Homo sapiens: one gene and its partner. The protein of the gene in region 2 purifies or fractionates together with the protein of the main gene of each other region. This does not show direct contact. Each region holds a gene or a part of one and is shown on either strand. Other genes may lie near its edges. The genes, in order: CDH8 and CTNND2.

Evidence for each region.
Region 1: the proteins of CTNND2 (region 2) and CDH8 purify together in Homo sapiens (co-immunoprecipitation; one large-scale study listed by IntAct). This does not show direct contact.

Annotation. Positions count from the first base shown.
Region 1 is NC_000016.10:61,900,260-61,904,093, forward strand, and holds part of CDH8 (cadherin-8 isoform 1 preproprotein), read right to left. Parts: intron 1,215-3,834; coding exon 920-1,214; intron 1-919. UniProt on the Homo sapiens protein: Cadherins are calcium-dependent cell adhesion proteins. They preferentially interact with themselves in a homophilic manner in connecting cells; cadherins may thus contribute to the sorting of heterogeneous cell types.
Region 2 is NC_000005.10:11,897,681-11,901,514, forward strand, and holds part of CTNND2 (catenin delta-2), read right to left. Parts: intron 1-3,834. UniProt on the Homo sapiens protein: Has a critical role in neuronal development, particularly in the formation and/or maintenance of dendritic spines and synapses. Involved in the regulation of Wnt signaling.

The DNA of each region.
Region 1 (3,834 bases), on a different chromosome or scaffold from region 2:
CTTGTTCACCTGCTTCAAAGCTATGTGACTTTACTACATAGCATGCACCCTTATAGGCTGTCTTAAATGCAACTTGAAACAAACTTGGATATGTACTACACATTTTAAAAAATGGCTTTTGTAATCTTATACTTTGAACTTTAGATTCTGCCTACTACTTTTATCATACAAGGAAGAGCTCTAAAATCCTTCCTTTTATTATAGAATGTCTGGGTTGAGGGGTTTCTTATCATCATGGCAGGGGTTTAGGGATAGATAAGCAGATTCCAAAGAGGGAGAAACAAGAATAAAATCATGTTTGAAATACAGACTGCTCTGTAATATGTGATGGAGTCTTCAATGACTCAGAAAAATTGAGAGTGGGTCAATGGTACTAGCAGTCACTCCTAAAAAATGTTGTTAAGATGGACACAAATACAGAGGCCCTTGGTAATGTCGATTGCCTAATCCACCCTAGACATGAACCACTAGAGCAACCTAATATCTGGCTGACTACAGACCTAGATGACTTTCTGTTTCTCTGTGTGCTGCATCTGCATGTGAATATACACAAACAAATAATTAAACATCAAGCAAATATCAACAGGATTAGCTTGGCATGTTAGAACAAATCTTGATAAATCTGCCTCAGTAACAATACTCAAACTACAAGTCTATGAGAGGAATACAAATTCAGCTTATTGAAGTATTGTCATGTAAGGAAAGATATTTTAATAAAATTGCTCTTCCATCAGTTCCTGTTACTAAGGGACTAAAGCTACTGAGCTGTGGAACTTAGGCCAAAAAGGGGGATTTGGAAATGCAAATTAGAGATAAGGTGGTAATAAATGTCTTTCATTCAGCAATACACCATCCTTGATGCCAGGAGCTATTCTAAAGATGACTTTTAATAGATCTGTGAAATTGGAAGCATACATACCCAAAATGGACATTTCTGGCACAGTAGCATGATAGGGTCCATTAAGAAACTCTGGTGCATTGTCATTGATGTCTTGAACTTTAATAATAAATTCAGAAGGAGGCTCCAGAGGTTTGCTTGTCTCCCAGTCCACTGCTTGAGCTGTTAGGGTATACTCAGCCTTTTCCTCCCGGTCAAGTCTTTTTATAGCATGGATATCTCCAGTTACATCATTTATTTGAAATATGGTCCCAGCTCCATCACCTGATAGGATATACTTGATTTTTTTGCTCCCAGGATCCAGGTCTGTGTGTAGCTGAAATGAAAAATGGCATTAGTTAGTGATGGAGCAATCTGAAAAGTTATTTTTTTAACTACCTCCTTTTTGAATATTAAGTTGGTTCTTTTTACATAACATCATCAATTTCTGCTAATAGTAGCTGTACAAAGTGTATGCAGCTGTGCGGATATCAATTAAGAATAAAATATAATGAAATTCATCTAAATAAGTTAGAACAGTCCTTAAAAAGTACTCTGGCCTGTTTAGTATAAAACAACATGCTTTTAGAATGATAAAAAGGTCAAGGAGAAAAATACAAAAATATATGTGTTATTTTCCATTTATTACATTTGCTTAAATTATTATGATTAGTCACCTTTTATGGGTCACTATCTGTATGCCCAGGACTAGGTGAATCACTTCTCATATAATCATATCCTTTTTATTTAAAAAACTGGGTTAAGAATATTTCATATGACACATAAGAAAACTGATGCTGAACGAGGCACATATTTACCTCTCCAAGGTTTATATTTGACAGACTCAAGTATGGTAGATCCAGAATTCAACTCAGATCTGCCTGTGATGTTTATACAAACAAAAGTAATTCTAATATATTGACTGATATTAAGATATTATGTTTTTGAAAGTCTTTTTTCCTTTAGTTCTGACAATTCGTCTAGTCCAGGAAAATCATTCCCATTTTATAGAGAAGAACACTGAGGCCAGAATTTAGGAGTACATTTTCCAGAAATGGAACCCCTTCAGAAAATGACAACTTTTCACCATGAACCCAAATCCATTTTTGGTCATAGCAATGAATATTTACTGAATTTGTGTGTCAGGCAAATAGTCTGCCTAAAACATTTTGGTAGGTACCAGGGAAAACAGAATCCCTGGTTTTAAGGTTCTGACAATTTTCTCTCAGGCTGGAGACAGGAGTATTCTAATATTATACACGGTGTCTCTCCTGTTTTAAAAAACTAAAATAAAATAAAACAATAATATATGTATTTGGGGGTTTGAATTTTTAAAAGAAAAGCCCATTGCGATGTACTACTTCAATGTACATATTTTCAGTTTAACTCAGTTACTTAACTGCCAATATAGTTCCAGTTGAGATTTCAAATATTTGTTCCAAAAAAAAAAAAAAAAAACCGCCTTGTGGAAAGAAACTCCTAGAAATTCAAAAGATGCTGTGTTCTCTTGGGATCCCTTTTATTCAGAACAGCCTCTTTCACGTTCTTCAACAATTTAAATTGTATTAAGCCCTTCAATAAGTGAAAAGAAAGGCTTATAAAAAAGACATAAAATAGCAACAAAGATTCCAAATGCATCTAGATCTCCTACTTTACTTTTGAATATTTTTTAAAGTTAAAGCATAAGATTACATCAAATATTTATTGATTCTCAAAATGTATCCCTTTCATTTATTGTATAAAATGTATTAACATGAACAAATATTGAAATGCCACTTTATCTTAATGAATGTGGGATTATAATTCATTAATGTGATATTAATCCTAATTTAGGATCATTTTAATTTATGCACATGTTAACATTTTCATTAGCATTTTTATTAAAAAAATTTGAATAATATATAATTCATGGAAGTTTCCATTCACATACAAGGAGTTCTTGAGACACAGAAGGGATCAGTATGTATCATTTTTGTCCACAAAACTTTGTTAATTAACAAATAAACTATTACATTTGGTGTCATTATTATTTATGTTAAAACTTATTTGTGCCATATTTTCTTCTAATTATCAATAGCCTCTGATTATTAAATGATATTACAATTTTATGTTTCAATGCTCCCTTCTGTTAAAATTAACTAAGAGAAGTAACTAATGATAAAAAAGAAGCATAGGTTTTTGTTTGTTTGTTTTGTTTTGTTTTTTGAGACGGAGTCTCGCTCTGTCGCCCAGGCTGGAGTGCAGTGACGCGATCTCAGCTCATTGCAAGCTCCGCCTGCCGGGTTGACGCCATTCTCCTGCCTCAGCCGCCCGAGTAGCTGGGATTACAGGCGCCCGCCACGGCGCCCGGCTAATTTTTTGTATTTTTAGTAGAGACAGGGTTTCACTGTGGTCTTGATCTCCTGACCTTGTGATCCACCCACCTCGGCCTCCCAAAGTGCTGGGATTACAGGCGTGAGCCACCTCGCCCGGCGAAGCATAGGTTTTTGAAAGAACAAAACACAAAGCTAAGATTCTGGTTTCTCTAACTACATGAACTGAAGAAATTCACTCATTTATTTGTGTTTCAGTTACTTTGCCTAGAAGACGGGGATAAAGCATCTATCTGCAGAACTGATTTTAGAAACTGAAACCATCCAGCTATCCGAAAATTATTAAAACAGAGAAGAGGCACTATTAAGTGACCATTTTTACTTCATATCACATTCAGTCATATGCAACTATCTGAAAACATTGTGATAATCCCAGTTCCAATGTAAGTGAAAGTAAATTCTCAAGACTCCATTCAAAAACAGCTTTTAAATATACAGCACTTTTTAAAAAAAAAAAAATGAGGTATATACGTCCTCTTTCTTTCAGAAATTTCACTTTTAGCTTATCCAAGTAAAATCCAGATCCTGGGGCCAATGATAATCTCAGAACACAATATATGTATGTTCATTTATTTCATCCTATTA
Region 2 (3,834 bases):
CATGGACCATAGTTGCTACAAATCAACCAGGGCATTAGACGCTACCTTGATAACTCTTGATGTAGTGTCAAAATACCATGAAATATTTAAAGAGCTCAACTACCAAGCAAAGTACTGTGAAAGCTACTATATCCAGAATTCTATCAACTAGAATTCTTCATAAACCATGCCAATGGGGAACACTTCTTCTCTATTCTGATATTTCCTTTCAGGCAAAGGGAACTTAATTAATGTAACACTGCTGGCCTCTCTCCAGCTTTTCACTTTCTCTGCCTCTGAAGAATAAAGAAGCAGCTTGCCTTGCTGCTTCTCTCTTCCTCTGGAGATCATCCTCCCTGCAGAGAGCAAGGCTTGGCTCTGCCAGCTCAGAAAAAGCTCTGTCCCTGTGGGGAGGGAGGAGGGAAAGAAGGCAGAGGACCTGGGATGTAATTCAACTGCCACACCAAGCTATGTCTAATCAAAACTGATATTTTTGCCCATGGCAGCCAATTATTTATCTTTTTCCCTTCCAATATCCCAACATGCTGAGATGGGGAGTGGGGAGGAGGAGAGCTTGATATTTATTTGATTCCTTAAAGACACCAACAACCCACATTCCTGCACATTTTGTAATTCTTAAAGTAACTATATACCTTTCTGTGGTTTATGTAATTGCATATTTAAATGCAAAGAGATAATACAATAAAGCATTTGTACATTATAAGGAGGTTTCTAAACCAAAAGAAAGAACTGCATAAAACATGCACAAAATGCAGTTTTCTTAAAATTTCTAATGACAGTTGTGATAATCACATCTGTTAAACCAAAAATGTTACTAATACACTTCTCTGGCCTTTACCTAGGCAAGAGAAGTGTATTTTCTAATATCAATGATCCAATTAATTGTTCCCCCATCATCTAGTGTTATAAAGTAAACATCCTATTTAGTAACATTTCTGTATCATTCAAAACTTGTAGAAATGTTACATATATTTATTTAACCAAATATAATTGGCTCACCTGCTTACTTTGATCCAAAAAAACAAAAAAACCCAGTAAGGCCTTTTATCATAACATGTATTTTGCTCTGGTAACTTATAATTGGCAGTTCCCACAACAACACATAAATTTGAATACAAATAACCACATTTATTGTAAAAATGTTTTTCTGACTGAAGATAAATTTGTCCCCCATTATACAGCTCACATTCTGAAACAAATTCCAAGATACATCGAATCGTAATTATCCTAAAAATTATGTTGCTGAAGATCACAGTTCTAAATGAAGCCCCTCTGGGTTTGATCATCCCAAGGAGCTGGACATCTTCCAACCTGGAAGAGCTGGGCACTTTTTTGTCTTCACTGAAGCTCTTAAGAGTGAAACAAAGCAAAAATGACCATCTATTTTCAAAGAGGTACCAATTCACACACTTTTTAGTTCTCTTCAAGGACTTGATTTTAATTGGGGAGGGGGTCTTCCCTTTATGTAATACATTTAGCTGTTTAAGGTTTCTTTTTTCTCTATCATAATGACATGATGATGAGATTCATGCTCGGTGGTTCTAAACAGAGCGGATGTGTAATATCTGACCTCACAGAGAGTGATGCTTATTAAACTGTCTATGATAGTCTTTGTACAACATTAATCTTTGTAGAAAATTTGATCTTAATCAGGTGACTAATATAACACTAATAAAGAATATCAAAGTTTTGTAATTTCTACTGGGTTAGAATCTTTTATAATAATGGTGTTGGGAGATATAATTTACTTCTCCTTTAGCTTAACTGCTATATACTTTAATATATAAAGGGCTGGTATGTTTCAGAATAGAAAGTTTAGCATATTTTATAAGCAAATCTGCATAATGAAGCAATATTACAATAGGGGTTGGGGTAGGGAAATTACAGCCATTTAATATCCTTTGTTAGAGAGGATGGTAACCTAGATAACCTATTTAATTAGATATGTATAAAACATTAGTACCTGTCTTAATATGTATATATTGATTTCTTGTGTTCACATAAATTTTGTAATTTACAAGCCACTTATCCATGCTCTTACTCACTTTATCCTCAAAGAAATCTTTTAAGATATTGTGTCTTATTCTACCCATTTTACAGCTGAAGAAACTGAGTTAACAACTGAGGATCACATAAATGGTGAGGGATACACAGCTAAGAAGAGACAGGGCTGGAATCCACCAAAAGCCAGTGCTCTCTCCACATCTCTGTACCCACCAGAAGCAGAATGCAAAACAGCATTACACTAGGGAAACTTATTTTTCCAATAATTGTCATTTCAGATCACAAACATATTTCTAGAGAAATAGTTGGGCTCTGACATATAACGTGTTTGTGTGTGTGTGTATGTGTAACTTTATTACAAAATATTGTAATATATAATATATAAGAACCCAATAAAATGTTTCAATATATGTAATTCATTTTGCACGTAATGTGCCAAGAGAGACAGGTGAATATTTATCTAAGATAGAAAGGTTCTAGGAAGCATTGTTTCACTTATTTAGTCATTATTTCCAATTTGTCAAAAACTAATTGATACAGGTACTTCAATATCCTGACATAGCTAAGACACTTCCTACAAATCAATTAACCATGATTCAGAGCTTGGAATTGCACTTAACTGCTATGTGATCAAAAGATAAACAACTGGAGGTGTCATAACTGCAGATTTTTGTTATGAGTCTTAATATTTAATGGACTAAAAAGCACAGTATGATAAAATATTTCTGTGAGTTCCCTGTGTTGGAGGTACTGTTTGTGACTATAACTGAGTTTATTAAACCCAACCAGGCAGTTTGTTAATCAGTAGGCTGGATTGGCAGACAATGTGATAGAAACTATTTATTGATGACATGTTTAATATTTTATATTAATATAAAAAGCTGTTGCTTTGGCATATAATCAGATAACTTGAAGCTAGCAACAAGTATCATGAACTGTTCCTACTCAAATTAACTTTTCACACACCAGAAGGCTATCAAAGTACTGTGGACAGGAGAACACCTTCAGAAGATGAATGAGGAAAACCATCATGGAAGCCAACAATGAATTTGGCTTGGCAGTGTATTTCCAACTTGCAAATCAGCCAGCAAAGAACCACACCTTCAGCTGAAGTACTGGACTTGAAAATGACTAGCAGTCCATGCTTAGTTTTTGTTCATTGTCTGAATTATGACATCCAAGTTTAAGTACTCCCAACTATGTTAAGTCTTTTAAAAATAAAAACTCTGTTAGGAAAAGTGAGACTAGCATCAAGGATTTCCCTCTAAGAAGTGAAAATAATGTTCGCACAGAGAAAAAACAAAAATGGGTGTTCCCATTTTCTGTGGCTAATCATAAAGAAGAAAACATTGGAAGTTCAAAATGTAACAGTTTCTATTTTAATTCAATTGGCTTGTTACAGCTGTATACACTGGTCCATACATAGTGTACTGACCCTATGGACAAATTACAATAAATTATTTCAAATGTAATGTTAATGTTTTCTTAAAGACAACCTGATGAAATTACTCTGAAAACCCCTTCGACAAGTCCACACAAATTCATACCACACAAGAAAGAAGTCTGATAAGGCAAAACAGAAAAGAGCAAGTTCTGTAACATTTTCTGCAAATACACTGCATATTCAACTAAATGCCAAAGTAATATTATATTTGAGATTATAACTTCATTTTTAATTTTAGAAACTATTATGAAAGCAATATTATCCTTAGAAATTATTTAACAAAACTATAAATTGCATTTGCAAACTAGTATTTGAATTTCATTTTTGTCTCTGATGAACAATTTCACTGGGAGAAAGAATTGGCTTATATTCTATTGTGAAAGATG